6 linked regions of the Homo sapiens genome follow. The protein of the gene in region 4 purifies or fractionates together with the protein of the main gene of each other region. This does not show direct contact. Each region holds a gene or a part of one and is shown on either strand. Other genes may lie near its edges. The genes, in order: TANK, RNF144B, DIS3L2, TICAM1, TRIM56 and TRIM38.

Region 1 (5,419 bases), on a different chromosome or scaffold from region 4:
TTCAAGAGATAGAGGACCTTTTCACAAAAGGGCCTAATTTCTCTTTAAATCACAATTTAAAATAGCTGAGCAGCCATTTAGCCTTGAGAACATTACCAATGATAAATAGGAACAGGCAAAAACCTACATAATTATAAAGCTTTACTCTGTGCTCTTAACCACTGGCACAGGACTCTACAGCTCTTCATATCCCTTGTTTTTAATTTCCCTGAGGACATCCATAGGCTGCTGGATTTGCAAGTCACAACTTGTTTTATTAGAAGTAATTGTGAGAACTCTAATGAAAAAATAAATAAGGTTTCAGAGATTTCCGGATCTCCATTTTCAGCCATTCTGAAGATGTTTAGGGTATGACTTTAACATATTAGCTTAAAACCAGATCTAATATTTTTAATCCAGTACCATGCAACAAGTTCTCTCCTTCAGACTGTTGAATATTCCTAAAGAGAAGGCTACAAAAATCCCTGGGCAGCCCAACAGATCAACATTCCAAACTTGCATCTGTGCCAAAATTACCCAACTTTCTACCCTTTTCAAGGCCACACCAGTTTACCTCAAATATGAATATTCAGACCTAGTAAATCTTAACACTTGCTGTGCCACCCTACTGTGGGGAAGTAATAGTTGATTAGAAACTCAGATTTGCTGTTTCACTTCCTTTTGCCTCTGGAAAAAAATAAAAAGACACTATAAAATAAAGATTGCAAATGATATTTTTAACTATACCACATCTTGTGTAAAATGTACTAATTTCTCTGCTAAGGCAATTTAGATCAGATACTCTAAATTAAAAAGCCTAGTCAACTGAAGATAAAATCAGAGTTGAAGTATACAATACATGTCCAGTCTAGACAGGCTTGGTGATGGGTGAGAGTAAACAAGTCATTTAACCTTTCTATGGACCTCTGTTCCCCCATTTCTCCCAATTCAGAATCTTGGCGTAGAGTCAGGCTGTAGGACATTGGTTCGCAACCTGTCAGTAAATTAGAATCATCCACGGTGGTTTTAAAAAATACATTACCAAACCCTGTCCAAGACTCCTGGATCTAATTTTGTACAGTGGGGAGATGTAAGATGGATTTAAAATTACTGCCATAGGGGGTCGAGTCATAGCTTGGAAAGCACTATAAAATGCTATACAAATATGCACCAACGCAGGGAAACAGGCTTTCATAAAGTTGCCTTTTTTCCCATAGTGATCTGCTTTTTAATTATTCTACAAGAAGTATATAGAATTTCGGAACAAAAATAGCAGTTGCTAAGGTAGAAGACTTTCTCAAATAAATAAATAAAGGTATTTTGATACTTTGGCAGATGGCCCAGAGCAACAGCACTTTGTTCATCTTGCTTCCATAAAACTTCCACAACTCATCAACTTAATTAATAGAGAAAACAAATGTTTTCTCTATTAATGGCATTTGTTGAAGTTCTTGTTGAGAAATTTGACTGACCATAGCCCATCTCCCACTAAGTAGCAATGACACTTTTAACTTGATGTTCCTCCTATCAATACTCTAATCATCTTAATTCTATTTCAATTCTCAAACTATCTACAGATAGTTGAGAGACAAGATAGATCTCAAAGACATGCCTTTAATTCAAAGAGGCACAAAGAGTCATGGATAAGAAGGACAATCTCAGTCTTCTGTTTGGATGGCAATCATCCCAACAATGAAGAAGGTGGTTCCCTATTTGATCATGGGAAGCACTGGGGTTAGGGTCGGAACAAAGATCTATTTGCAGGTGCTTTACATAAACTACCTCATTTTTAATCTTCCCTCTGCAGAAGCATATATTGTCTTCCCTTTACAGAGGAGGAAACTGAACTTCAAAACTGAGCTTCAAAAGGGTAAATAAGTTGCATAAGGCACAGAATTAGAAAATGGAAGAACCAGATAAACCTAGGTCTCTGTTGCTAAAGCACAATCTCTAGCTCTCTCCCCTCTAATTTTTTATTTTAATCAGAGCTATACGTACCTATATCTTAATGAGTTGTGTAGTTCTACAAAATAAGAAAAACAGTAGTCCTCTGCTTTCCCCTTCCTATTTCCTGCTTCACCTTCGCAACAAATTTTGACTAATTCTTTTTTGTATTTATCTCTGTATCCCTAAATAACATGTAATACTGCCACTACTGATTTTTCAGTTTTTGTCTCTTCATTATGGAAAATTAGGATTCAGCTCTCTTTAAATATCCCCTACCTCCTATTCTCCCCCATTTCCCCAATACAGTTATATCTAATTTTTCATTAGATTAGCATTCAGCTTTTACTTTCTTATTACTATGTAATGCTATTCACTGTTGAACAATACCATGGATACTTTTCCTTTTCTGAAAACTTTTTTCCCTGAAAATTCTTGTTTGCTTTGTTTCCTATTATCACTAATACAACTCCTCAATATATTCAGACACGTCAGGTATTCTATCTCTTTAGAAGAATCACTCTGTAAGCTTTCTGGCTTGCTCCAATCTAGACTAGTTGCTCTCTATGCCTGATGGAAAGCCTTCATCTTGGGACCTTCTTTACCTTGAATTTGGGGATACCCTTTGTCCATCTCTTTCTTTAATTGAATCCCTCATTTTCAGTCTCCTGAATCTTGTTTTATATCCCCACGTGGTGACGCAAATCTTGTAGCAGCTTCCTAAGAAAGTGTTTGGGAAGTAAATTTTTTGAGGCTTTGCATAACTAAAAATATCTTTACCCTCTGACTTAACGGATCCTTTGGCTAGATTAAGAGTTCTAGGTTGGAAGTAATTTTTCCTCAGAATTCTGAAAGCTTTGCTATGCTATCTTCTAGCTTCTGTTTATTTTTTTTGAGGATCAGATCCATTTTGATTCCTGATCTTGTACAATTCTCACTCTGTTGCTCGAGGCTGGAGTGCAATGGTGTGATCTCAGCTCATTGCAACCTCCACCTCCGGGATTCAAGCGATTCTTGTGCCTCAGCCTCCCCAGTAGCTGGGATTACAGGCGCACGCCACCACACCCAGCTAATTTTTGTATTTTTAGTAGAGACGGGGTTTCACCATGTTAGCCAGGATGGTCTTGAACTCCCAGCCTCAGGTGATCTGCCTGCCTCGGCCTCCCAAAGTGCTTGGATTATAGGCATAAGCCACTGTGCCTGGCCTTAAACCGATTTTTTTCTCTTTGAAAACAATTAGGATTTTTTTTCTTTTTGTCCCTAGGATTCTGAAATTTCAGGACCATACTTGGCCATGGACTATATCATAGCAATAGGTGTTTGGTGGGCCCTTTCAATCTGGAAATTCCTCCTTCAGTTCTTGGAAATTTTCTTGAAAATTTTTTGGGGCAATTTCTTTCCTTTTGTATTCCTTTCTGGGACTTCTACTATCTGGGTTTTGAATCTTCTGTACTGGTTCTCCAATTCTCCTTATTCTGCCACTCCTTTTAAAATGAACTTCCCTCCTTATTTCATAGTGAGAAATAAAAACTTTTAATGTGAGGAGTGCAAACCCATTTTAATTATCAGGCCCAGAGAGGCACTGAAATGTAAGTGTGTGACAGCAGTCACACCTCACTCTCCCGTGAACTAAATGACCCTCTTGAAGCTACCTACTATGTGATGCCAAGTAGCCATAAAATGCCATACGTTAGATACCAAAACTCATGCCCTATAGTTCAACAATGTATAATCACTAATCAATGTTATTTCTGTAAACCAGTGAGAATTCCTATCAAATAACTTAGTATCAGCCCATTCTTTGCTCTCTTTTGCCTTTAAAAACCTGGTTGCGGCCAGGCACGGTGGCTCACACTTGTAATCCCAGCACTCTGGGAGGCCGAGGCGAGCGTATCACAAGGTCAGGAGATCGAGACCATCCTGGCTAACACGGTGAAACCCTGTCTCTACTAAAAAATACAAAAAAATTAGCCGGTCGTGGTGGCGGGCATTTGTAGTCCCAGCTACTTGGGAGGCTGAGGCAGAAGAATGGAGTGAACCCAGGAAGCGGAGCTTGCAGTGAGACAAGATCGCGCCACTGCACTCCAGCCTGGGTGACAGAGAGAGACTCCATCTCAAAAAACAAAAACAAACAAACAAACAAACAAAAACCTGGTTGCAACAAAGGCCGAATGGAGCAACCCCCCAAGGCAACCTGGAAGTGTGTCCAAGGCAGCTGTCGTCAACCTTTACCCAAATAAATTCCCCATATTAATTTTGCCTCCATTTCTTTAGGTTGACAATAGATACAATATCTTAAGTCTGTTGTCTTTGGCAGCCATTATCCTGCCAAATGACAGCCAACCAATCCTGGATAAAGAAAGTAGTAATCAAGGGTAAGTAGTGGTGCCTCTGGAGCTGCACTGAGGCTGACAGTGTATGAGCCAAATCATGTTCCACCTCTAACTGCCTGTTCAACCAGAACATCTGAGCTTTGATCAGTTATGTATATATACATTGGAATTCCACGTTTGAAGAGAATCAAAGGCTTAAAGGTAGGATTTTCGCCATCTTGACCCCAGGATGATTAGTCATTCTTTAGTAAGGTCTACTTTTTTGTAGGTGGTTGAGACAAGTGTGAGTAATTTGGGAGGCAGGCAAGGCCCCTCTGCTGGGTTTCCCCAACTGCTGAGCCTATTCTGTTTCTGGGTAAATGTTCTGCCAGAGTTCACACTTGTGGTGAGAGACCAACTCAAATCTAAAGCAGTTTCAGGATGGGGAAAGGAAACCACCTTGAATAACTGCTACTCCTTCCACTTTGCCCTAGAAAAGAAAGCCACCAGCCTTTCCCAACCCCTTGGGCTATGAATAAGAGGAGTTCATATTCTATTTCAGAAAAGTTGCCACTGTAGTACATAAAGAGGTGAATCAGTGAATGAAAGACAAATTCTGTGTTTTTGTTTTGTTTTTTGTTTTTTTTTTGAGACAGAGCTTCACTCTGTCCCCCAAGGGTAGAGTGCAGCAAGTGTGGCGGTGCAATCATAGCCCACTGCAGCCTGGACTCCTCGCCTCAAGCAATCCTTCCACCTCAGCCTTCTGAGTAGTTGAGATTATAGGCGTCAAGCCACTGTGCCCCACTACATCTTGGTCTTTTCTGTATCTTAGTTACATGCTTGCCTTCTCACCCACAAAACACATCAGGAGTAAAAAGCAAAAAAATCAGTCAACAACACGACATATACACATAAATAAGACATCTTCTCTTTTGGATGGTTAGGAAGATCTTTAAAGACACTCAAAAATATTAAGTGTGTTTTCCTTACCTGAAGAAAGGAAATGGAAGAGAACTGTCACTACTCACATTTACTTGTGATCATTTTCCACTTTTAAGGAGTTATATAACACAAGCAGCTAATTCCCCAACTGACCTCTTGCATTTCTATTCTCCTTCCACATTGTAAACTTTGGTCATGAATATACCCATAGCATATTGTACTACGCTGTTTCTGTGCTCCAT
Region 2 (5,419 bases), on a different chromosome or scaffold from region 4:
CAGCCTCCTTGTGGATATGAACCCAATTAATATTCTGGTGAAACCTGAAGGAAAACAAAAAAAAATTGTTTTTCATTTGTAATGCATGTGTAATGTACAATCAGTAAAATCCTCATCCAGAATATCACTCACTTAGATGCATGCTAGGTCTTAAATATCAAACATAATTGTAACTCAAGGGCCTATGATAAATCAATTTTTAAATAGAAGATATTTCTTCCAAACTGAGCTGCTGAACTTCTAGAGTCTAAAATGTCCATTTTCTTCTCCTCAGTTTATACCTCTTCTTAAATCACTAAGATGGAGGTTATTATTCTTATTCATACATGTCATCTTAAACAACATATCTAGTTTTCCATTAAACATCAAGCAGGTGGTGGCCTGCTTGATGACATTACATGCTAACTGCACACTCACTCACTAAGCATGTCTGAACTAAAGCACTACACAAATCGCTTGTTGAATTAAAGCAAATCAAGCAATCAAAACAAAGAGCTGAGAAAAGAATAGCAACTCAATGGTAACTGAGGGCTTACGCTGATATGGACATATTTTAGAGGTCCAAATTGCCAAAACAGAGTGTTATCTATAAACAACTTATGTTACCCCAAACTTTAAAAGACCAGAAGTGAAGTAAGACCTTCTCACCAACTCTTTGCATCGCATTTTTAACTCTGAAGTTACCATTAGCCTTGGCACAGGGCTGAATAAAACTGCACCTCAATTTGAGACTTGATTCATGAATGGTGAGAAAAAATTAAGCCAAGCCCCTTGATCTGGGAAGGGAACACTGTCAAAACAGTAGCGATACTGCTGCATGCTCATGAACAAGAGAGAGAGAGAGCGAGTGAGAGCATGCAAGAGAGCATGAGGGAGAGAAGAGAGTTAGGAGACACCATTGATTTGAACCATTTTTCTTTAAATTCAAAACGAAGAAAAAATCTAATAGTGGTAGGCAGAATAACTACCTCCCAAAGATATCATGGCCTAATTCCCAGAATCTGTGAATGTGTTACCCTATATGACAAGAGGGATTCTGCAAGTGTGATTAAATTAAGAACCTTGAGATAAAGGAGATTATCCTACATTATCCTGATGGGCCCAATCTCATCACATTGGTCCTTCAGGCAGAGAACCTTTCCCAGCTGTGGTCAGAGGGAGCAACGACTAAGAAAGAAGGGAGTGAGAGATCTGATGTTGCTGGCTTTGAAGATGGAGGAAGAGGCCACAAGCCAAGGAAAGCGGACAGCCTCCAAGGCAAGAAAACAGATTCTCCCCTAAAGCCTCCAGAAAGAAATGCAGCCCGGCTGACACCTTGATTTTAATCCAGCAAGACCTATGTCAGACTTCCAAAGTGAAGAACTGTGGGATAATAAGTTTGTGGTATTTTAAGCCACTAAGTATGTGCTAATTCGTTACAACAGCAATATAAAATGAAGACACTAATAGTCCTTTACATAATAGAGACAATGTGCAAATAGCAAGAAATGCCCTGAAAACAAAAGCTTGCCTTTAACACCAGGGTGGCATATGTAAGGTCATCAAAAAGATGTTTTTAGATATCTAAAGTATCAGGCTTAGTAAGTCTCATTAAGAAAAATAAATTCCTTTTGCAGGACAAAAATTGCCCCAATATTTTAAAGGAAAATCTGTAGGATATCAGCTGTGGTGCAGATACAGTATAGGAAACACCATACAACAAACCTAGGTGGAACTTACATCCAAGTTCTGGAGGCAGTACCAGCAAAATGTATGCTTGCAGTTTTTGCACATCATCTGAGCGCAGCCTTCATTGCGTTCGATATAAACCCGGCAAACTGGGCACTGCTTAATGGGGGCTTCTGCATCTGTCCCAAAGAGGGCTCTAGAAACAAAATGGATGAGAAATGGCATTCAGCTGATGGTCATCAGTTGAATTCCCAGGGCTCCTGATGGTTAGATAATGAACTCACAGTTATCCATGCTTAATTCACTTCCAAAAGAAAGGGTGTGGGCAAAAACATTATTAGATGTACAGATAACTCATACAAGAAGGAATCTTTATTTATTTTGGCTTTCAGTGAATTATATAATTACAGTTTCCACCACTGATTTAACTCACTATTTTGTCAAATTAATATTTCATTCCCTAAGCATGCATTGCCTAAATAAGAATGGCAAGGAGTTGGCTACACAGCAGAGAAACTAGGTCAGGGTCCAAACTGGGCGTATATAATCTATCTAATGGTCTGTTCATTAGACAAATGGAGAAGGGGTTCTCAAATATAAACACTTTAAAATAATGTCAAATACTTTCAAAAGACCTTCTCCAAACAGACGAATAGACCAATACAGGCTCACAGCCCCAAGGGGCACAGAAAATAAGCAACAGGAATTGGAGTGAGCGATAGCACCATGTAACACTTTAGCTACTGCCCATCAAAACCACCACCCAGCACACAGAGATATCCAACTCACAGAGTGTTGTCAAATCTATTATCAGACTTCGTATGAACAATAACCTCATATTGTCATAAGACAGTTATTACAGGTTGAGCATCCCTAGTCCACAATTTGAAATCCAAAATGCTCCAAAATCTGAAACTTTTTGAGTGCCAACATGACAAAGGAAATGCTCATTGAAGCCTTTCTGACTCCTGGTATTCAGAGTAAGGATGCTTAACCAATAAACATATCATGAAAATATTTCAAAATCTGAAAACACTGAGATCTGAAACACTTCTTATCCCAAGTATTTTGGATAAGGGATGCTCAACTTGTATCTTAATTCCCTTATTTTCAGATAGGGAAACAGACTCACAGAGGCTGAGTGGCTTCTATGAGACACACAGATACCGAGTGACAATGTCAGAATGCAAATCCTCCTATCCTCTGAGTTCTTTACGTTGCCCTGTGATACCCACGGAGCTTCCTGCTATGGCCACGAAAATGTAGGCAACAGTGGTTTGAATCCGGCTAAGAGGGCACATGCCTGCCATGTGTATTAGCTTCTCTATTCCTCTCCATTTGTTTGTTCTGAGATTCAAGCACAGCATCGTAGCCAAGTAGCATTACTATTCATGAAGCCTGGTTCTACACATTCTGGGTGCACTGTGTGATTAAGCCAATGGGATTACAACACTCGTATTTTGTTCTTGCTGATGCAGAACAACGATAGCCTCAAGCAAAGCAGGAATGAAACACAGAGGTCTCTCACTCTGGGCACTGCTGTTGCCATAAAAACCCTCTGTATCGCCCAAGTGTGGTGGCTTATGTCTGTAATCCTAGCACTTTGGGAGGCCTAGGCGGGTGGATCACTTGAGGTCAGGATTTCAAGACCAGCCTGGCCAATATGGTGAAACCCCATCTCTACTAAAAATAGAAAAATTAGCCAGGCGTGGTGGCAAGTGCCTGCAATCCCAGCTAATCGGGAGGCTGAGGCAGGAGAATCGCTTGAACCCAGGAGGCAGTGGTTGCAGTGAGCCGAGATCGTGCCACTGAACTCCAGTCTAGGCAACAGAGCAAGACTCTGTCTCAAAAACAAAACAAAACAAAAAAAAACCCGCTGTACTAAAAAGGTACAGATTTAATTGCTTCCTATCACGATAAAATCTCAACCTTTACAGAGCATAAAATATCATGAGAGAACCCTCCTTTCTACGTGCTGAAAGAATTTAGGACCGTTGTTTCTATTGTTGTGTTCTTTCTAATATGACTGTCACACATCATGAGCTGGCAATTTAGTCAGGTAAGAAAATTTCTTTTCTCATTTTGCAAGCAACAAGAATGATATATACCAATACAGGCAGATACTGTATCTGAGCAAAGAGCGGGAACAAGTCATGATTTCCTACTGAGAACCAGTAGACCACGGTGCCTCACTACCTAAAGAGAAAGCAAAACTCATACAAACTTTAATTCCAGCAATATCTGGAAGATTCCTCTGGGGCAAACAACTAGAAATGCTTTTTTGTTGGCAACTTACCAATTCTGAGACACTTCTCAGGGAAGTTCTGCAGGAAAATAACCAATCTCTAAACGCCATCACAACGTAACTCCTTCTACACGTAAGGTATGTTGAATTTCTAAGAAAACTAGTGAATAATCCCAAAGACAAAGTTTCCTTTCTTACCGGTGCTCTGTTGGCAGGACAATAGGCTGACTGTCTCTACAGGAGACCTCTGCATGCCAAGCATCCTTGCAACACGAGCAGAATTTCAGGTGGCAAGAAGGGCATTCCACCAGCACAGGCTGTCCTGGGTCACTCGAGGCAACAGGGCACACTGTCTGACAGTCTGCAACAGGACACCATGTTCGGTAGGGGTCCAGATGAACTTCTAAAGTGTAAAGAAAGAAAATGTGATGGTCTGCCCGATTCATGTTTGAGTCTTTCTCACCTTCATTTGCCCTCTTATTTATTTAATTTATTTGGAACCAGAGTCTCACTCTGTCGCCCAGGCTGGAGTACAGTGGCATGATTTCAGCTCACTGCAACCTCCCCTCCTGGGTTCAACCGATTCTTCTGCCTCAGCCTCCCGAGTAGCTGGGACTACAGGTGCGCACCATCACGCCTGGCTCATTTTTGTATTTTTAGTAGAGACAGGTTTCACCTTGTTGGCCAGGCTGATCTCGAATTCCTGACCCCAGGTGATCTGCCTACCTTGGCCTCCCAAAGTGCTGGGATTTTACAGGCATGAGCCACCACACCTGCCCCATTTACCCTCTTTTTTAAACTGACATTTATGGAAGTATAATACAACAAGGGTGAGGATTTCTACTATTAGTCTTCATAATGGATCCAAACCTATCATTTACAAGGTCGCTAAGCCCTGCCACATTTCTCAAAGTAGGTACTAACAGAATAGCTTACCATTGCCTTTATGAACAGATAAAAAGTGTTCTCTGTAAACAAAATTCACAAGACTTTTAGAATATTTCCCACCTTTGAGCACGTAAAATAGGCAAAAATCTCAAATCCCTTCTACAATTATTTGGGCACTATCTTGGAAGAGAATTGGACATAAAAAGCAAATTTTTAATAAGATATTTTTCCAAAAAGACTTTGTCCTTTCAGGCACTGAGAAACAGATAGTGAGGTTTCTTCCACATTCCCAGGAAATTAAAGAACAAGGAAGAAAATAATCAAATAGTTTAGGGATTAAACAGTATCTGGTGTGGCTTAGCCAAGAAGTTGGATTACCTGTCAGTTTGGATATTCTGCTCCCTACCAATGTGCAACTTAGGGACAATGTGTGAAAGACCCACATGTGGGCCGGGCACTGTGGCTCACGCCTGTAATCCCAGCACTTTGGGAGGCTGAGGTAGGCGGATCACAAGGTTAGGAGATCAAGACCATCCTGGCTAACAGGGTGAAACACCATCTCTACTAAAAATACAAAAAATTAGCCGGGCATGGTGGCGGGTGCCTGTAGTCCCAGCT
Region 3 (5,419 bases), on a different chromosome or scaffold from region 4:
TGCCTCAGCCTCCCGAGTAGCTGGGACTACAGGTGCCCGCCACAACTCCCGGCTATTTTTTTTTTTTTTTTTTTTTTTGTATTTTTAGTAGAGACGGGCTTTCAACGTGTTAGCCAGGATGGTCTTGATCTCCTGACCTCGTGATCCGCCCACCTCGGCCTCCCAAAGTGCTGGGATTACAGGCGTGAGCCACCGCGCCCGGCCCACGCCTGGCTAATTTTTTTGCATTTTTAGTAGAGACAGGGTTTCACCATGTTAGCCAGGATGGTCTCGATCTCCTGACCTCGTGATCCGCCCGCCTCGGCCTCCCAAAGTGCTGGGATTACAGGCGTGAGCCACTGTGCCCAGCCGACAAAAATACTTCTAAAAGATATTTAAAGTAAAACTGAAAGTAAAATAAAGTGATTTTTCATATGAATTTTACATACCAGTTTAATTGTGTTCACATCATCCACAGGATTGCGCCTATCGCAAGAGATGTCAACGTTAACCAGCAACACAGCTCAAGCCTATTAGGAATGTGGCAACTGCAACTACTGCCCACACAAACCGCTGGAAGCACTTTCATCCCCTCTTTCATAACCAGCAGCTAAACCTGTCAAAGATCCCCCTTTTCTGAAAGCTGCCACAGGTCAAAAATTAGGACTATATCAATGGCATTGTGTTATTTACTCTGCAGCAGAGAGGGAATTCCAATACTTAATCAGTGTACTTAAAAAAAAAGTAAGACAATAGTCTAGTACTCACCTTTCTCAGAAACACAAACTGAGAGTTTCTTAACACCATCAACCAGCACATTTTGTGTGATGCCATGTCCATCTTCTGAGTCGCTGCCATCAAACTGAGCCTCTACAATGACATCAGGACTGTCATTATAGCTTTTCAGGGACTGTTGCGGGAGATGGTGTCCACAGAGCTCCTCGGGGATATCTGATTCATACGCAGCTTCTGTTTCTTTGTCATTGCTCTCTGGTTTAACTACCTAAAGAAAACAGAAAAATTCTGCTAAATCACTGAGAGAGGAAAAAAAAAAAAGAGCAGATTTTTCTTTTCTAAGGAAGAAACTGCATATTCAGAAGCTAACGGTATTGGACACTAATCATGTAGTTCAAAAAAGGATCTTTATTTTCCAGAAGCACAGACCACCTAATGCACATAATCAATCCAGCAAAGCCAGGCTGACACTCAGCTCTTCAGGATGCCCCAAATTAATGCCTTATCCACTTCTCATATTTCTGATCTACATTTTCATCCCCTCTCCCCAAAGGCCCTGAATACCAGAAGTAGTACCATGCTGCTTCATAAACCCTCACCATATAGGAACAATTAGTAAGTTAGGGAATGATAAAAGAACTCAACAAAGTATGCCACAGTGTTCCTAAAGGAAACCAAGGAAACCACAAGAATACAAGATGAAGTGGAAAAAAAACAAAATTAAGTGTGAACAAGAGTTTATAAAATGTTCTTATAAAAATATAAAGCTTTATTGGCCAGGCGCGGTGGCTCAAGCCTGTAATCCCAGCACTTTTGGGAGGCTGAGGCGGGCGGATCATGAGGTCAGGAGATTGAGACCATCCTGGCTAACACGGTGAAACTCTGTCTCTACTAAAAATATAAAAAAATTAGCCAGGAGTTGTGGCGGGTGCCTGTAGTCCCAGCTACTTGGGAGGCTGAGGCAGGAGAATGGTGTGAACCCAGGAGGCGGAGCTTGCAGCGAGCCGAGATGGCACCACTGCACTCCATCCAGTCTGGGTGACAGAGCGAGACTCTGTCTCAAAAAATATATATATACACACACACACACACACATATATATATATATACATATATATATATGTGTATATATATATATATACACACACACACATATATATATATATATTTAAAGGCTCAGGCCTTTAGTTTCTATTATGTATTTATTTCTGCCACTAATGGTTCCACAAAGGATTTGGTTCCCATCAACCATGGAGAAAATATCACAGGTACCAGAATTCTGACTTTGTTATACAATCTGCAGGCTGAACTTTCTCACAGTGAAAGGTCTTTCTCTGCATGTATATGTATATATACACATATACATATACATATACATATACATATACATATACACATATATATACATATATGTATATATACATATGCATATGCATATACATATACATATGTATATATGTATACATATATACGTATATGTATATACACGTATACACGTCTATACGTGTGTATATATACGTATACACGTCTATACGTGTGTATATATACGTATACACGTCTATACGTGTGTATATATACGTATATACGTATAAAGCACACACACACTGATGGACATTTACACTACAATACTAATGAAGCAAGTAGAGGAAAAAAATCCAGGCCAGGCACAGTGACTCACACCTGTAATCTCAGAGCTATGGGAGGCCAAGGCAGGAGGAGTTTAAGACCGGCCTGGGCAACATATTGAGACCTTGCCTCTAAAAAAAATTTAAAAATCAACCAGGCATAGTTGGGGGGCAGGGCGCCTGTAGTCCTAGCTACTTGGGAGGCTGAAGTGGGAAGATTACTTGAGCCTAGGAGTTAGGAGTTACAGTAAGCTATGATCACGCCACAGCACTCCAGCCTGGGCGACAAAGGGATATTCTAGCTCTAAAAAAAATAAAATAAAATAAAATAAAAAACCAATCCAGATACTAATCCATTTTATGAGTTTGTCACATACAGCACTCTGATGTCTATGGACACTATATTAAAATACACCAGGTGTTATTGAGTCACTGAAAAAAATTGTGACCCTACATGTAAATCTGCCCATCCACATTAGCAAAAAAGCAGCAGATTTTGTAGGTTCTTGGATGTTACTTGAATACTGCATCCTTTTTAATAATCTATTTCTATATGATAAATACCTATGTTCAATTTAAACATATAATTAAAACTTAAATGATCACCTGTATATACATAAATATAAAAAATGAATTTGATCACTACTTGTAAACATTCCTTTTATTCTTTCAAACAAATGTTGGAATGCCCACCTCGTGCCAGGCACCGTCATGAGTCCTACATCCTAGTGGGGTGACAAATGATGAACAATTTACTCATTCAACAAGTCATTATGGAGTCCCTTTCATGGTGCCAGAAACTGTTCTAGGTGCCAAGGGCAGAACAGTGAACACAATCAAAAGTCGACTAGTGAGAAGCGCAATTAAATATATTGAAAGAATGAGAAAGCTCGTTAAGTAAATGAGAGAATAATGGAGAGGGTGTGCCTAGTTTATCAGTAGGGTGATTAGGAAATACTGCTTAGAGGAAGCAGCATTTGAGCAGAGACCTGAATGAAGTAAGAGAGCTCTAGCAGTTTCACCATGTTTATATTTGATAGGTCTAATGTTCTAATTAAAAGTAACACAAAGATCATGCTTAGTGAAAGATCTTCACCTTATACAAGAGAGAAAAAGTTATTAAATCTTTCCTAAAGCATTTTAATACAGTAGGTTCAATTAACATAACCATTCCTAGACAATTAATATTATAATATCAACTCAGAAAACCAAAGTAAAATATTACAAAGAACGATCAGAATAAAGGTAAGAATATATCCTCAGTTTGTAAAAATTGACTCCATAAAAATATAGTAATAGAAAAACTTGTAAACAATGCTTTTTTTTTTTTGAGCAAAACTGTGCTCAAAACTTTTGAGCAAACTTTTTTAAAAACTTGGTTCCCAGTCCCTGAGTATATTTAATAAAATTTTCTTTTTTGCTTGTTTTGACTCATGTCAGATTCATACATTCATTTGTCCATTCATCTGTCAATGGGAAGTTAGAAACAGACATATCTCCCTCTCTTTAATACTACAAAAAAGTTCTACTGGCCAGGCCAGCAATCTCCAAAAAGATTCCCGCAGGGCCCTTCCTGCAAGAGCTCATGTGAGTGAAGCTACAGCTAGGGCACTGATACACAGGTTGAACATCCCTAATCTGAAAATCCAAAATGGTCTGAAATCTGAAACTTTTTGAGCATCAACATGACAATCAAAAGATATGCTCAGTGAAGCATTTCAGATTTCAGATTTTAGGATTTAGGATGCTCAACTGGTATAATGTAAATATTCCAAAATCCGAAAAACATCCCAAACCCAAAAAAAACACTTCTGGTCCCAAAAAGGACCTTATTTTGGATAAGAATTCCTTATTCTGGATAAGGAATACACAGCCTGTACAATTAAAAAACCAGCTCCCCCATCTGCACTTCTGCTTTACCACATAAGCCTTGTTTTCATAACTGACCCAAAGAAGATCATCCAAAAATAAGAAAATTTACTGACAAGTTACAGCAGAAAAAGAATCCGATATCACTCAAATCAACAAATTCATTCAATTTCCTTAAATATGCCTGGCAAATTCAGAAATATTTAGGAACATCTGCCCCTGACCATCCTCAAAGAACTAATACAACCTTGGGTACTGTCAGAGCAGCCTAAGCACAGGCAGAAGGCACAGGTGTATACCCTATGTCTAAAGCATGGTGGCTATATACAATCTCGGGTTTAATGGTTTTTCCTGTATCATCCCCATACATACTTTATCTCAGAGAGAGAAGTTCTGGGCAAGAAAGCAACTGTCATGCTGCAGTTGGTCTAGCAGGTAAAAGGTAGTCTCCTGGAAAGACATTATGGGCCTGGCGTGGTGGCTCACACCTGTAATCCCAGCACTTTGGAAGGACAATGCAGGCAGATCACTTGCAGTCAGGAGTTCAAGACCAGCCTGGCCAACATGGTGAAACCCTGTCTCTACTAAAAATACAAAAATTAGCTGGGTGTGGTGGCACACGTGTGTAATCCCAGCTACTCAGGAGGCTGAGGCAAGAGAATCACTTGAGCCCAGGGGGCAGAGGTTGCAGTGAGCTGAGATCATGCCACTGCACTCCAGCCTGGGCAACAGAGTGAGACTCTGTCTCAAAAAAAAAAAAAAAAGAAGAAGAAGACATTATGCAAAGAGCTCAGGCCTTTAGGTTCTATTTTGTATTTATTTCTGCCACTAGTGGTTCCACAAAGGATTTGGTTCCCACCAACCACGGAGAAATATCATAGGTACCAGAATTCTGACTTTGTTATACAATCTGCAGGTTGAACTTTCTCACAGTGAAAGGTCTTTCTCTGCATGTATGTATATGTGGGGGGGGGGGGGGGGGGTATAAATTGTAATCAGCGTGATTCTGCCTGCCTACTTACTTAATAATTTATGCTTTGGCTCATGCATACGAAGTTTAAGAAGAGAATGGGAAGAGAAGGCGACATGGTTTGGCTGTGCCCCCACCCAAATCTCATCTTGACTTGTAGCTCCCACAATTCCAATGTGTCATGGGAGGGACCAGGTGGGAGGTAATTGAATCATGGGGGGGTGGGTCTTTCCTGTGCTGT
Region 4 (5,060 bases):
GTTTTTCTATTTTTAGTAGAGACAGGGTTTCATCATGTTGGCCAGGCTGGTCTCGAACTCCTGACCTCAAGTGATCCGCCTGCCTTGGCCTCCAAAAGTGCTGGGATAACAGATGTGAGCCACCATGCCTGGCCTATTTATTTATTTATTTTTTAAAAAGAGTTGGATGTCTTATTCAGTTGATAAATAAATAAATACATACATAAATAAGAAAGATGCGGCTGGGTGTGGTGGCTTACGCCTGTAATCCCAGCACTTTAGGAGCCCAAGGCAGGTGGATCACCTGAGGTCAGGAGTTTCAGACCAGCGTGGCCAACATGGCGAAACCCCATCTCTACTAAAAATACAAAAATTAGCCGGGTGTGGTGGCGAGCTCCTGTAATCCCAGCTACTCGGGAGGCTGAGGCAGGAGAATAGCTTGAACCCGAGAGGTGGAGGTTACAGTGAGCTGAGCTCTCTTCACTGCACTCCATCCTGGGTGAGAGAGCCAGACTCCATCTCAGGAAAAAAAAAAAATAGAGATGGGGTTTCATTATGTTGCCCAAGCTGGTCTTGAATTCCTGGCCTCAAGCAACCCTCCCACTTCAACCTCCCAAAGTTCTGGGATTAATTACAGATGTGAGCCACCACAGCACCCAGTCTTGTTTATGTATTTAGACACTCCAGAATCAATACATGTTAAGTGTCCAACAAACCTTGGCTCCATTCTTATTCTTAGAAGGTCTGTCACCCTGAAAAATATTAATCCCTTCCATGTGGGTCCCCATACTTAATGAGTGCTGCACCTGCTACCCAGGTATGGTGTACCTGATATGTGGTTCTGCATATGATCCGCTGAGGCCTTGAAACAACAGCCTCCACAGACCCATTTCTCAGATGAAAAAGCAGAGGCTCCGACAGGGGAGGCACTTGCCAAATGTCACACAGTGGCATCGGAGTCCAACCTTGGTGGGGGCATCAAAGGCAGACCCCAAAGAAAAAGGAAGGGCTGCAGCAAAAACTGCTAAATGTCCCCCAATGGCATTCATTCAAATTCATGCATTTATTCACTCATCCATTCATTCACTCACTCATTCATTCATTCACTCATCCTTTCACTCACTCATCCATTCACTCATTCATTCACTCACTCGTTCATTCATTCACTCATTCATTCACTCACTCGTTCATTCATTCACTCATTCATTCACTCGTTCATTCTTTCACTCATTCATTCACTGACTCGTTCATTTATTCACTCACTCATTCACTCATTCATTCATTCACTCACTCGCTCACTCATTCATTCATTCATTCATTCATTCATTCATAGCTCACTGCAGCCTTCGGCTCCTGGGCTCAAGCAATCCTCCCACCTCAGCCTCCTGAGTACCTGAGACTACAGGCGTGCACCACCACGCCCAGCTAACTTTTGTATTTTTGAAGAGACGCGGTCTCACCATGCTGCCCAGGCTGCACCCTCCCCGCCCTCAACAATATCTTTTCCCTCCACCTTTCCTGGTATTAGAACCCCGACTCGGGAGGCACACGGCCGTTCAGAAAGGACTACATTTCCCAGGGTTCCTTGCGGCAGGAGCAGGGCCATGTGATTATATTCTGGCCAATGGGATGAGGGCAAAGGCCGGTCTATGCCCTCCAAGAAGAGGCGTGCACTTCCCGCTTCCTGTTCCCTTTTGCGGGAGCGGGAGCCACGTGTTTTATAACAAATAGCCAGGCAGAAGGTGTCCCAGAAGACAATGGCGCTGCGGAAGCATTCAATAAATATTTATTATAATTAAAAGACCGTAGCAATACCCCCACCACCAAGACCCTTCACCCAGAAATAGAGAGATTGGAATTGTAAACACCGTATCCAGTTCTGACCACCCTGAAAGCCAGGGCATCATCGCGCCCGTTTTGTCCTAAATGAAGGGCTCCCGGACAATGTCCTGAAAGTGGCAGATGACCTCATCTTCCACTGTCCACAGGGCACAGGGCAGACCGGGGTGCTCTATGGGGTCCTGGCCGATGCCTGGGTCCAGGGGTGTTCCCCAGGTGGTCAGGCAAGGACACGCGGTCATTCTGCCTCCTGCGTCTTGTCCTCGGGCGCCTGGGACCCTCTCTGGTTCCACATGTGGTTGTTCAGCCCCAGCTGTACCATCTGTGCGTGGTGGATAATGAGGGGTTGCAGCCCTGGGCTCTGAGGGGGTGCGGGTGAGGCCGTAGGGAAGGCTGGGGACTGCGGGAAGGGCAGTGACTGTGGAAAGGCTGCTGGCTGTGGGGAGGGCGGTGGGGGGGTGCCAGCCTGCCATGCGTGCAGGGGTGGCGGCTGCGGGCACCCCGGCCAAGTGGGAAAGGGTGGCGGGGCTCCCAGGGGCACCTGGCCCCCAAAGGGCATTCGAGCCCCATAGGGCGCCCCAGTCCCAAATGACATGTGGCTCCCAAAAGCCACCTGGAGCTGCTCCATCTGTGCCTGGTAGGACAAGTAGCTCTGGAGGTAGGCTGAGTAGGCTGCGTTCAGTGCCGCCGCCTGCATCCGCTCACCGTCCAGGTGTTGGCTCTGTTCCCGCAGGGCTCGGGTGTCCTGTTCCTTCCTCCACATGGCCTTTCGGGCCTGAAGCCTGTGGGGCTTGAAGGTGTTGGCCACCTTCCTGGCGAAGATCTGGGAGTGTTCGTCCAGCCGCACCAGCCCGGAGAGCAGGCTGGCCGTGTCGGAGCTGAGCTGGGCCGGGGAGCTCTCCAGGGGCAGGAAGGGGATGACACAGTCTGGCGACCCCTGTCGCGTGAGGTTGCTCATCATGGCTTGGTTCACCTGGTGCAGGCTCAGGCGACAGTCGAAGTTGGAGGTGAGAAGTAGGATGATGAAAGCTGAGTGGTCTATGGCGTCCTGCAGGCAGCTCAGCTCCCCGCGCCCCGGCACCTGGAAATCCTCGCAGAAGGTGGCCCCGTCGGGCACGCCAAGGGCCTCCAGCTTCTCCCGAACCCGCAGGGCGATGTGTTCGTCTGCCCTGGCGTGGAGGATCACAAAGTTATAGAATTTCTGTTCCGATGATGATTCCAGGGAGGAAGGGAACAGGGAGGAGGGGGTCAGGTGAGCTGAACAAGGAGTAGATGAAGGAGGAGGAGGAGGAGGAGGAGGGGATGTTTCTGGGGTGGTGGGAGTAGGTGGGCACGGCTTGGTATTTGGAGAGGTGGTATCTTCTACAGAAAGTTGGAGTGGCGTCTGGTCTTTGACAGAGCAGGGGTTTTTGACCGGCTCCAGAATAGGCAAGGGGAGAGACTGGGGGCCTGCAGACCCCTCGGTGCACTCCACTGGGTAGTTGGTGCTGGTTTCTGGAGCTGCGGGGGTATCAGGGAGGCCAGTGGAGGTTGCATCTGGGGCCACTTCGGGAAGCCCAGGAGGTGGGCTGCTTGGCAGCTCTGGTGGGCTGGCAATCTCCCCCGATGGCGGCCAGCTCATCTCCTCAGGCTCCTGGCAGCCACCGGGGACAGGCTCGGGCACCAAGCTGGCCTGGGGGTCGTCACAGAGCTTGCTGGGCCCATGTGGGCTGCGGTGCAGGCTGAGGAAGGGCATGGTAGGGGACTGGCTGATTTCCAAGTTGCTGGCCAGGGAGGCAGGGCTGCCAGTGGATCGCAGGGAGCACCCTTGGCTCCAGTCCGAAACACCGTCAATGGGGCGTGGGAGGCTCCTGGTCCCAGAGGGCAAAGCCGAGGATGGTGGGAGGCAGCCCAGATTGGACTGGAGCGTCCGGATGCTCCCTGGATCCCCAGCAATGTCCCACCCACACCGGTTTCGGGCCTCATCCTGAAGTTCCCCCAGCCGGTGGTCGTCCCTGGAGCTGAGGGTGCGGACGGCTTCCTGGTAGGCCACGTCCCGCAGCGAGGCGGGGCACAGCTTCTCCTCAGCCAGCAGGTGGTACAAGCGGGCCACAGCCCAGGACACATCTGGGGGCTCCTCTGGGTCCTCGGTGCTGTCCACGCCAGCCCACTGGCGGGCCACCAGCCGGGCCACCGCATCGGCCTTCAATGCCTCTAGAGAGATCCTGGCCTCAGTTTCCTGGCCCAGCTTCAGGAGAACCATGGCATGCAGGAGGTCCTGCCCCTGGCAGCCTGGGCGTGGGGTCTTCAGTTTGTGCTTCAGATACAAGAGCTTGTCCTGGCCTGCTGCACCTAGAATGTCGAAGGCGCTAGGAAGTGATGGGCCTGTGCAGGCCATGGGCACAGGTGGGTGCAGCCTCCGGCAGCAGAAGCTGGAGGTGGTGAAGGCATGTTCCACACTGCCCCCCGCCTTCTGCACGCCCAGTGTCCCCTACCCATTCACTGTTCCAGGTTCTGCAGGAGCTGCCCAAGCAGATCTGTAGGAAACAGGAGAAGCAAACACACTTACCCCCAAGAAAGGTCAGCACGGGAAGGCGGCCCACACACCCCCGCCTGCTTTCCCCGCCTGCCACCCAGACCTAGCCAGGTGACCTTCGGCAACACGTCGCCTCCTTCAACTTCCATTTCTTCCTCTGCAAAATGCTATGAGGCCAGTGTGGTGGCTCAGGCCTGTGATCTCAGCACTTTGGGAGGCTGAAGCAGGAGGATCACTTAAGCCCAGGACTTCGAGACCAGCCTGGGCAACACAGCCAGACTCCGTCTCCACTAAAAGTTTAAAAATTAGCTGGGCTGGGTGAGGGGGCTTAAGCCTGTAATCCCAGCAGTTGTGGAGGCCGAGGCGGGGGGATCACCTGAGGTCAGGAGTTCGAGACCAGCCTGGCCAACATGGTGAAACCCCGTTTCTACTAAAAATACAAAGAATTAGCCAGGAGTGGTGGTGCATTCTTGTAATCCCAGCTACTTGGGAAACTGAGGCAGGAGAATCGCTTGAACACAGGAGGTGGTGGCTGCAGTGAGCCAAGATCATGCCACTGCACTCCAGCCTGGGCAGCAGAGTGAAACTCCGGCTCAAAAAACAAAAAAAGTAGCTGGGCGTGGTGGCACGTGCCTGTTGTTCCAGCTACTCCGGAGGCTGAGATGGGAAGATCGCTTAAGCCCAGGAGGTTGAGGCTGCAGTGAGCTATGATGGTACCACTGCACTC
Region 5 (5,419 bases), on a different chromosome or scaffold from region 4:
CCGGCCAACACAGTGAAACCCCGTCTCCACCAAAAAAATACGAAAACCAGTCAGGCGTGGCGGCGCGCGCCTGCAATCGCAGGCACTCGGCAGGCTGAGGCAGGAGAATCAGGCAGGGAGGTTGCAGTGAGCCGAGATGGCAGCAGTACAGTCCAGCTTCGGCTCGGCATCAGAGGGAGACCGTGACCATGGAAAGAGAGGCAGAGGGAGACCGTGGGGAGAGGGAGAGGGAGAGGGACCTTGGTTTTCTTTCTTTTCTTTTTCTTTTTTTTTGAGATGGAGTTTCATTCTTGTTACCCAGGCTGGAGTGCAATGGTGCGATCTGAGCTCACTGCAACTTCCACCTCCTGGGTTCAAATGATTCTCCTGCCTCAGCCTCCCAAGTAGCTGGGATTACAGACGCCCGCTCCCACGCCTAGCTAATTTTTGTATTTTTAGTAGAGATGGGGTTTCTCCATGTTGGCCAGGCTGGTCTCGAACTCCTGACCTTGAGTGATCCACCCACCCCAGCCTCCCAGAGTGCTGGGATTACAGGCTTGAGTCACCGTGCCTGGCGCTTGGTTTTCTTATAATCTTCATTATTCTTTGCTGTGCCTACCTTTGTAATTTGTAGATAATGGAATGTGTCCACCCGGACTTTGATGATGTCCTGCATTGTTTCAATAAACAAGAAATGGTTTTCCCAGAAAGGGATTTTCTTTTCCCTCTACCTATGCCCTGCACATTCCATCTGGACTTGTCCAAAATCCCTCTGGTTCCCACGAATGCCCCACTGTCCACAGTCCCCACATTAAGACCCCCTTCTGCCATCTCTCAACAGCCCCTGGCTAAAAACATTCTCCAAGCCTACTTGCCCCCTCAATTCTACCACTGCCACCACTTATGAAAAGGTCCGGTGGTCACAGCCCACCTCCGACGGGTTCCTCCCTTCTGGTTTGACACCTCTATCCGTCGCAGCCCCATTGCACCTTCTAGGTTTTCTTGGCACCTCCAAGTTCCACTTGGCCTGCAGGGTTTAGCTGTTTCCCCAGCAATAGTGGCCCACAGAGGACAACCTTCCTTCACCCCCTAGTTCAGCCGAGTGAAGGCCAACATATCTCAAAAGGAATTTTGCTGGAAAATGAAGAGAAGGCAACACATAGACCCTGGGAAATGGAAAGACACCGAAGCAGAAGCGTTGGAGCCTAGAGATTTTTCTATCCTATGTACCTCTTCCCTCAGACTGGCTCCGTGGCTGCGTGGAGGGCTCCCCTGCTCTGACACTCATAACTTGGTATTTATTTATTTATTTATTTATTTATTTATTTATTTATTTTAACACTTGATCTTAGCTGAGAAGTGATGGATAACCTGCTTTTTCTGTTGTTTCTGTTTTTTTTTTTTTTTTTTTTTTTCGAGATGGGGTCTGGAATGCAGTGGTGCGATCATAGCTCACTGCAGACTCAAACTCCTCGGCTCAAGGGATCCTCCCACCTCAGCCTCCTGAGTAGCTACGTTGAAAGGCATATGCTACTACACGCAGCTAATTTTTAATCTTTTGTAGAGATGGGGTCTCGCTATGTTGCCCAGGCTGGTCTCAAACTCCTGGCCTCAAGCAATCCTCCTGCCACAGACTCCCAAAGTGCCGGGATTATAGGCATGAGCCACTGCGCCTGGCAGAGCCTGGTTTTTTTTTAATACTTAATCTTAGCCAAAAGGCTGAGAAGCGATGGAGAATGTGGATTTTTGGACGTGAATTCTGTTGGGTTTGGTTTTCCAGTAGCCTATTCTCTTCGCAGCCTTTGAACCTAACACCTCTTTGGCCCCAGCTGCTGTCTGCACTTGCAGACCCTCCTGCAAGCTCACCCTGTACTACCGCCGGGGGATGCCGTGATCAAGGAGCATCCTGCCTGTGGCTGGCAGAAGAGGCCATTCACTGCCCATTCGAAATCTCAGGCCTCCTCTGACTCTGTAGGACCCTGTGCCAGTCCAAGGGGGGCCGGGGTCTCAGCTCTGTTCCACAGTGCACACGCCTGACCCACCCTGGGCCCTTCTTGGCCCCAAGACTCTCCCTCGGCTACTCTATCAGGAATGGTTTTGAAGAATGCAAAGCAGGACAGGCTCACAAACCTCAGAAACCTAAACTATATAGCAGCGGCGGTGGTGGCAGCAGCCACCCACAAAAAGCAAGAGGCAGGTGAACTCCCAGCATCCCCCTCCACCCACCTGCCTCCTCTGCTTCTGAGAGTTAAGGTCACGCCACCACCTTGGTCCCTATTCTCACACACTAGAAGACGGGTTAGCAGTTTGGCACTCCATGTTGAAAAGTTGCCAACCCCTGCCCTTCAGGAAAATGTCCTCGGCCTCCACCTCCCACGGACAGCTCTGCCTCCTTCCTGCCCTCTCCCTCCCCACTCCCTCTCACCCTAGTCCTAGCCCCTTTAACTGTCCGGAGAACGGACCCGAAAGATGTGGATGGTCCCGTTACTGAGGGACACGACCAGGTACCTGCCATCCACCATGGTGGTAACCCGGGGCTTTTCCAGGCCGTGGTAGGCTGTCAGGAAGTCTCCAAGGAGGGACCCCTTCGGGTCCAGGATCACCACCTTGTTGACTTCTCGAAGGGTCAGAAAGATGTAGCCCTTCTTATCCACAGACACGGAGCCCGGCTGGCAGCCATGCAGGCCTGGCCCCTTGTACTCCCCAACCACCTGGCCCAGCCCATCACAGATTACCACACTATTCTGCTGCCAGTCCGACCCCACGAAATGCCCCTGGGGGCTGGTGGTCAGAAACACCAGCGCCCGCAGGCCCCGGCTGGCCTTGCCTCCAGGAATGAACCGGGTGGCCAGGCTGCCTTCCATATTGTACACCTCCACGTGGCCCGCCACGCTGACAGCCACGCGGTCCCCGCTAGGCAGTGCCGCCACCGCGTGGCTGGCCTGGGAGAGGCTCAGGGCCCTGCGCCACTGCACTTCGCCGTTGGGGTTGATGAGATAGAGCCGTGCGCTAGCGGAGAAGGCCACCGCGCTCTGCAGGGCGGCCACGCTGCAAGGGGAGCAGCCCTCAGGGACCGGCACGGTGCCCTTGTAGTCGCCGTTGAGGGAGAAGCGTTTCAGTGCCCGGTTCTGCTCATCCGCCACCAGGATCTCCCGGGGACCGAAGGGACAGAGCCCGGTGATCCGGGGGGACCGCTTGTCTCCAGGCATCCGCGTGGGGAAACTGCAGTAAAAGATGGGTCTGGGGAGGAGGCCAGAGCCGTCCAGATTCGGCCCCAGGGCTGGGCTGGGCTCCCGGGAAATTGACTTGAGCCTGCCTTTGAACTTTTTCTTCTTGTTGGGTCTGCCACCCCTGTGGGGCTGGGGTCCTCCATCCTCGTGGGGTGTCTGGGCCCTGTCCTCCTCCAAGGTCTGGGCTCCCTCTTCTCGGGTTGTCTGGGCTTTTTCCTCTTTTGGGGTCTGGGCTCCATCTCCAGCCTGGGGCTGGACTCCACCCTGTCTCTCAGTCTTCGGCTCATCCTCCCTCCGGCTCTGGCTCTCCTCACCTCCCTGGGTACCAGCTCCGTCTTTCCCACCATCCTTCTGGGGCTGCTGCTCCTCAAAGGACAGCCGAAGAAGGTGGCAGTTCTTGTCCAGGAGCCCAGGATGGAGCTCCAGCTGTGGGAGCAGGCAGGGGGCCGGGCCTGGTGCCCAGGGGCAGCCCTGCAGCTGCCTGAGCCGCTGTGCGATCGCCCCTTCCAGGGAGAGGATCTCGGCCTCTCGCCCCAGGCTGAGTACCCGGCGGGCGAAGGCGGCTGCGGCCCTGGCCACCTGCTCCCGGCCCTCAAGCTCCGCCAGCCTCTCCCGAGCAGCTTCTTCGGCAGCCTCCACGTGGGCTCGTAGCTGCCCCAGCACCTCCTGCTTCTGGGCCAGCAGGGCCCGGAGGACGCCCTCAGCCGCCTCCTCCACCTGAGTCCCCACCCGGGCCGCCTGCTCCCGCAGCCGGGCTAGCGCCTCCTTCTCCACCCTCCGCGCTGCCTCCAGCTCCACCAGGTTATTGTCCACACCGGCCAGCAGTCCCTCCAGGCCCGGCCTCCGGGCACGCACAGCTTCAGCCAGAGGCAGGCAGGGGTGGTCCAGGTGGGGGTCTAGGCGGCACTCTCTGCACAGCAACTGTGAGCAGGGCTGGCACAGGAAGCGCAGTGCCTCCCCGGGGTGCTGGGGACACTGGGCCGCTTGGCGCTCCCGGGCCTCCTCATCATACCACCCGGCCCTGTAGCCCACCAGGTCCACCACGCGGTGGGTGTGGGTCTGGCGGGTGCAGCGGTGCCCGTCGGCACAGGCCTGGCACAAGTCATCGGCACAGTCCAGGCACCGGGCCGTGGCCGGCCCCCCGGTGCTGGTGCCACCCACCAGGGGACACAGGGCACAGGCTGGCTTCCCGGCACGCAGGTCTCCACAGGCCCGGGCCTTCACCAGGTCCAGCAGCCCATTGACGAAGAAGTTGGTCTTGAAGGAGGCCACACCCTCGGGCGGCACAGGCACTGTCTCGCGGCACTCGGGGCAGCGGACGCGGCCGCCATCCGCCAGCTGTGCCAGGCAGTCTTGGCAGTAGGTATGCAGGCAGGGCAGTGTCTTGGGTGCCCGCAGCTGCTCCAGGCAGATTTTACAGGCCAGGAAGTCGCTGCTCAGGGCCTCCAGGAGGGAGGGCGAGGACCCGTGGGAAACCATGCTGCAGGCAGAGGCGTCAGGATCAGAGTTGAGAAGGCACCTTCACCAGCTCACCCTCTAGCTTCTACCGCCCGTCCTCAAGCCCCACGGATCCCCAGGGCTAGGGGCTGACCCAAATGGCCGGGAAGGAACCTGAGGTCTCACCTGAATGGCCAGGAACTTCCTTCTAGTCTTCTGAGGCCTTGGGCCACTTGCTCTTGAGCTAAGGAGCTGCCCTCCTCCTTCTCCTCCTCCTCCTCCACTTCCGTGTGTACATCCAGCAAACGTAAAAATGTCAGTGCTACTTGTTGGGTCAGACCTGTGAGAACTGACAAGACCAGGAGTCCCTGGCCTTAGCTAATAATCGAATCCTCAGTGTCCCCAGTCCACAGGCCTTGTGGCAAACATGGTGGAAGCCCTCCTGTGTGCACAGGTACTGGGGTCCTGCTGTATAGGGTGCCAGGGTGCGAGGAGCAGGCAGTAAGGACACAGACGGGGATCCCAGTGGGCAGAGATGCCTAGGTCCTGCCAGTTGGGGTAGGATCTTGCAGTAGCTTAGGGGGCTTTAATCCTCCAAGCCCCATACACCTGCCTTCTTTTTATTTTATTTTAGTTTTTAGCAATAGGGTCACCCTCTGTCACCCAGGCTGGAGTGCAGTGGCGTGATCGTAGTTCACTGCAGCCTCAAACTCCTAGACTCAAGTCTTTTGAGTAGTTGGGAGTACAGGCATGTGCCACCATGCCCAGCCTTT
Region 6 (5,419 bases), on a different chromosome or scaffold from region 4:
GTGTTATCTAAGTCAAGTTCCTAAAATATGTGAATGATAGGTTATCATACTCACCTACTTTTCTTGCATTGCTCTAAGAGTTGGCTGAGCTATTGATAATAAACACTATGATCAGATCTAATACCATGATGTGCTATTATGATCATGTGTCAGTCACAGGGCTAAGCACTTTGTACATGTTGATGCATTTAATTTTGATGATAACTCAATGAAGTAGGAGCTGTTAATATTTTCATTTTTCAGAGGGGGAAACCAAGTCACTTGGAGTAACATGGCTAATAAGTGAAAGAATAAGAATTTGAAAGGTTTGCACAGATAACCAGAATGCAATGCTCATCACATTCACTGAGCAGTGAATCATACTAACTAGAGAAAGTATGAAAGCTCTACTGAAATTAACTAAACAACCTCTCTGGCTGTGAGCCTGCCAAGGGACAGGTGGTAAACTTGGTTACTGCATAAGGCCCCTTCTATCCACAGTATTCAGGAATTCTTTAGTGAACATACCTTGATGACTCCTTAACATTTTCTTCACATCGAAGTAAAGCTTGGAAACATTGCACATAGTATGAAGTTCCAAGGAGACAGCCTCTGATGTTTCCAGCTTCACAGCCCAACTCCTAGAATAAGCAGAGGCGAGAGATTTCTTCAGAGGTGCATTCCATTCATTTCTATATACGCACACCCCTCCCCTCCTGCATTCAAACAGGACTTACCTGCTCAAAGTGTCATTCACATTCTATAAAGAAACAAAAAGAAAAGGTGAGCATGGGAACATCGGTATTTCATGGGGCTTGTCATGCAGGGCTATTCTTCTTTGCTTTACCCGAAGAAGTAAAGAGAGTTACCCTAGTCTTAGTCTTAGATATTGATGGATACTCAAACAAAGTAATTCCCACCAGTCTTAGGTATTGATGGATACCCAGATGGAATAATTCCTACCAGCTTCTGGGAGATTCAGCATGGCAGGATGTTTATCAACATTTGCATCTATTCTCATCCTTGCTGAAGTCTGAGGGCCAGGAGCTTTGTCCATGCTCCCTCTGTAAGGACTAGCTTTTGGTGATCGGATTTCCTTCACAGTGAGCCCAGATTAGAGAACACTTATCATAAAGGTCCTTAGTGGTGAATCTGTGCACAGCCCTGAGACTGGGCCACTGCCACTAAGATGGTGGTAGCAGGTATCACACAGTGGTAAAGCAATCATGCTATACACTCAGCCTTACAGTATAGTCACCAATCCTGTTAGTTAGAACCAGAATTAATGGCTCCAGATGTTTATCTTCCTACAGATAAAGCTGTAGATTGTACCATAACAGCTCTGGAGCAAGGGTTCTACAAGCAAATCAGGGAAAAGGTTATCACTCATTTTGGCTGCCCCACTTCATCACCCATCAGTCACCTAGTGGAGTATTTCAGGAGAGAGTCAACAACCAGGGTTCTCTGCACATGGGCCAAGGAGGCAAACAGTGGTAAATGTTATCCCGTGGTTTCATTTGGCCAAGCTGTGTTCCCTCAGAAGTTTATTTTTCTAATTGACATAAAGGTACCCTATAAATTAGTGAAGGCCAGCCTGATGGCACTGATGTACATCTAAAAGAAACATTACTTTATCTTCCCATGCTTCCTTACCATTCTCCTTTAATAGCACTATAACATACCTTTTTTCCCTACTCCAAGTACACAGCCTCACCTGCAGCAATTTCTGGGCTGAGCCCTGACATTTTTCCTCCAGTTCCAGGATGTGGCTCTTGAGTTCATTGCTCTTCAGCCCCAGACCAGCCTCATAGTCCCTCAGTCTACTCAGAGTCTGTTGTTCTTCTTTCTCCAGCCTCCAGAGATAAGACTTCTCTTCCTCATGTAGGAAACACTGGAGATTCTTAAAGTCAGACCGGATTTTTTGTCTCTGAATCTGTACCTTCTCCTGGAGTCAAGAAAGTATGGTCAAAAGGTGGAAGTAAACCAAATGTCCATCTATGGATGAATGGATAAACAAGAATGAAAGTCTGACACACGCTACTACATGACAAGCCTTGAAGACATTCAAGCAAAATAAGCCAGAAACAAAAGGGCAAATATTGTAAGACTTTGCTTATACAAGGCATCTGGAGTAGTTAAGTTCATAGAGACAGAAAGTAAAATAGTGGTTACAAGGTGTTGGCAAGACCAGAAAATGGACAGTTATTGTTTAATGGGTAGTGAGTTTCAGTTTAGAAGATGAAAGATGAAACTGAGTTGCAGTTTGGAGATGGGAATGGTGATGGTTGCACAACAATGTAACAATGTAAAAGCACTTAATTCTACTGAACTATATACTTAAAAGTGGTTAAATGCTTAAGTGTTATATATATTTTCACACAAACACACACACACACACAATCAGCCACTGGGACATTATTTTCTCATGAGTCACTGAAGCTGGAAGAATGTCCCCAGTTTCCTGCTGCAGAGTCATGTGTGGGAGGCAGGCACTCAGATGTGGAAGAGGTTGCCTCAGATTCCTTATAGTCACCCAATTAATTTTCTTGTTCTTCAGCCAAGACACAGGAGAAAGCTGGGTTAGGAGTGCTAGATAATTTAATTGTGAAACTAGGGCCAAGTTCAAACACTTTATCAGTTACAAGGATAAAAAGAGGTTTTTACTTATGATTTAAGAAGTTAGATTTCTGAGTTGGAGCGATTTTCTTGAAGTAAAAGCTTATAATGAACATCACCCAGACTGGATTTTAAGACAACCAGGCTGGTAAGAGGGTCCATAATTCTTGGCAGGGGGAGCTTTGAGTGTGACAGGCATTTATTATGGTTAACTGAGAAATACTGTTCTACTACCCTAGGGTCATCTTAAGCATTCCTATGTGTAAGACTGACAGAAATCAAGTGAAACTCTCATCTGAGGAGATGTAAAGTTGCAATTTCCATTAGTGCTGTCTAAATTAATGCAGTGGGAGTGTGTATTCAGGGCAATTTGAATCTATGTTCTTGGATTGCAGTCTTCAAACTTGGCCCAAATAAACTCTCTACTTATCTTAAAAAAATAAAAATTAAAAAATAAAAATAAATTCATACAGTGTTTTGATGACTATGATATAGAAGAAGGGTCTTTGACTTAGGATGAGGTGGAATTTTTGTGTAGGAGACAGGTGCAGCTTTAACTCTTGTATAGACGGGTTTTCATATATGTTAGTTACAATCAAGGTCTTCCCCATTGCCCAAGATCCTAGAAATGGGGGAAGTAAGAGTGTACTCAGGAGCTCAAGAGCAACATCCACAAACAAAGATCAGGGTAGAGGTTAGAGAGGACTCCTGAAAGAGAGAAAATTGGTAATCAGCTTGTGGGATTTTACTGCAAGCTAGTGAATTATATAAATATAAAGATTGGTGCAAAAGTAATTGTGGTTTTTGCCTTTACTTTAATGGCAAAGACCGCAATTACTTTTGCACAAACCTAAATATTTCCATAAAAGAATGTGGCTCTGATAATGTGGAGGTTAGTCAGCCACGGAAATAATCTGAAAGTTTGTAGTTGCAAGTGTGTAGGTTGTTGCATTACTTGTGATGTACTTATAAATCAAGTATAGGCCGGGTGCAGTGGCTCACGCCTGTAATCCCAGCACTTTGGGAGGCTGAGGTGGGTGAATCACGAGGTCAGGAGATCAAGACCATCCTGGCCAACATGGTGAAACCCCGTCTCTACTAAAATACAAAAAATTAGCCAGGCATGGTAGCACATGCCTGTAATCCCAGCTACTCAAGAGGCTGAGGCAGGGGAATTGCTTGAACCCGGGAGGTGGACATTGCAGTGAGCTGAGATCGCACCACTACACTCCAGCAAGACTCCATCTCAAAAAATAGTAATAATTTAAAAATAAATAAATAAATAAAGTATATTTCTTTCATCAGCTTCATGAGCTAGAGTAGTATGAATTTCAATCTGGAGTGATCCTGTTTTCTAAGTGTTCACAAAGCTTGGTTTCTGTACCTGTAAAGTTGAGAGCCAGATGCTCCACTGTGGTAAAAGTGCCAGGGTAATGAGTTGAGGCCTGCAAACCAGGTTTATTTTGACGTATTTAAAGTTTGAGACCCACTCGATGCTTTTTCTAGGTAAATAGTCATACTAATTCTGCTTCTTCTGACTGAAGTATCAGGAATCCCAGCCAACTACAGTTTAAAGATGGAAAGATTGGTGCTAAATACTCATGGATGTAAACCTGGAACCAGGGGCATAAGTACAAATAATGGTTTCTTCCTTGGGTTTCATTTTTTCAATCTGGTTTAGTGAGAATAAATCCTCATTGTGCTTTTCCTCAATCATCCCCTATGCCTAAGCTCTAGAATGGAAAATAGCTTGAGATCAATGAAGTCAGATTCTTACTTTCCATTTAGTTATTCGCATTGCTGTGGACAGCTTCTGCTCCGTACATCTGTCTTCAAGTTGCTTCAGTTTTGTCACAGCTTTCTGGAGCTTTTCCTGAAGGAAAAATTTGATAAGTGAAGCCTATTCAATTTGACTCTTCATTAGGGACCTAGGGGGAATCCCAATCTTCTAAGATATATTTGAATAATAGTGAATATTTATAGAGTCCTCATTGTTTTTTGCTAGAGAGCATGCTAAAGGCTATATGTGCAGGAACATACTGATCCCCTTGGCAACCCTGAATAGTTGGTAGGATTTTAAACTTCATTTCTGTGCTGTAGAAAATGAGACTAAGAAAGGGGTAAAATAACTTGCCCAAAGGGCTATGACTGCCAGGTGGTGGAGCAACAATTGCAATCTCATCTGCTGACCCAGAGCCTGAGCTATGTCCACCACTAGAGTCCTGCCAGGAAAAAGTTGGATATAGAACAAGGTAATCATCATCTAAAAGATTTTGTAAAACAACATGCTGAACCAAGCAAAACCAATACCAGTGTTTGGCACACATGAAATTTTGTGTCTTATGAGTCAGGAAAAATCAGGATGCCAGCTGGTTATTAGAAACAGTTCATGGAAGAGGGGAATTCTGGTATCTTTTGAACAATGGTATCATGAATCCAATTTAAAATGATTTAGTATTCATGTCAAGCTTTTAGCTTATTCTTCAAAACAGTTTCTCATATTTCTATTGAAAGTGATTTGAAGCTGACCCAAATTGCTAATTGTAGTCAATGCTGAAAGAATTGTCTCCTGTCCTCTGTAAACCCAACAAGTATACTCATTCATTCTCGAGTGTTCTCAGGAAAAGGTTCTATGTAACTGTTTTAGCAAAAGATGACATTGTCCTTACTATATGCCAAGTGCTATTCTATGCATTCTATATTTTAATGTCCTCAAAGCTTATAACCACCTCCTGTGTATGTGTTTTAGGGAGGGAGGACACTGCTATTATCCCCATTTACAGATGGAGAAACCAAGGTGTGAAGACATTAAGTAACGTGCCCA

The links.
Region 1: the proteins of TICAM1 (region 4) and TANK purify together in Homo sapiens (affinity purification with mass spectrometry; one large-scale study listed by BioGRID and IntAct). This does not show direct contact.
Region 2: the proteins of TICAM1 (region 4) and RNF144B purify together in Homo sapiens (affinity purification with western blotting, with the first as the bait; one study listed by BioGRID). This does not show direct contact.
Region 3: the proteins of TICAM1 (region 4) and DIS3L2 purify together in Homo sapiens (affinity purification with mass spectrometry; one large-scale study listed by BioGRID and IntAct). This does not show direct contact.
Region 5: the proteins of TICAM1 (region 4) and TRIM56 purify together in Homo sapiens (affinity purification with western blotting; one study listed by BioGRID and IntAct). This does not show direct contact.
Region 6: the proteins of TICAM1 (region 4) and TRIM38 purify together in Homo sapiens (affinity purification with western blotting, with the first as the bait; one study listed by BioGRID). This does not show direct contact.

Annotation. Positions count from the first base shown.
Region 1 is NC_000002.12:161,166,261-161,171,679, reverse strand, and holds part of TANK (TRAF family member-associated NF-kappa-B activator), read right to left. Parts: intron 1-5,419.
Region 2 is NC_000006.12:18,456,052-18,461,470, reverse strand, and holds part of RNF144B (E3 ubiquitin-protein ligase RNF144B), read right to left. Parts: intron 4,317-5,419; coding exon 4,112-4,316; intron 1,865-4,111; coding exon 1,720-1,864; intron 1-1,719.
Region 3 is NC_000002.12:232,083,050-232,088,468, reverse strand, and holds part of DIS3L2 (DIS3-like exonuclease 2), read right to left. Parts: intron 983-5,419; coding exon 748-982; intron 1-747.
Region 4 is NC_000019.10:4,814,183-4,819,242, forward strand, and holds the end of TICAM1 (TIR domain-containing adapter molecule 1), read right to left. Parts: intron 4,335-5,060; 5' UTR 4,297-4,334; coding exon of another isoform or gene 4,293-4,296; 5' UTR 4,196-4,292; coding exon 2,057-4,195; 3' UTR 1,750-2,056; downstream 1-1,749.
Region 5 is NC_000007.14:101,086,582-101,092,000, reverse strand, and holds part of TRIM56 (E3 ubiquitin-protein ligase TRIM56), read right to left. Parts: intron 4,996-5,419; 5' UTR 4,833-4,995; intron 4,690-4,832; 5' UTR 4,689-4,689; coding exon 2,421-4,688; 3' UTR 1-2,420.
Region 6 is NC_000006.12:25,968,374-25,973,792, reverse strand, and holds part of TRIM38 (E3 ubiquitin-protein ligase TRIM38), read right to left. Parts: intron 4,469-5,419; coding exon 4,373-4,468; intron 1,925-4,372; coding exon 1,694-1,924; intron 740-1,693; coding exon 717-739; intron 621-716; coding exon 508-620; intron 1-507. UniProt on the Homo sapiens protein: E3 ubiquitin-protein and E3 SUMO-protein ligase that acts as a regulator of innate immunity. Acts as a negative regulator of type I interferon IFN-beta production by catalyzing 'Lys-48'-linked polyubiquitination of AZI2/NAP1, leading to its degradation.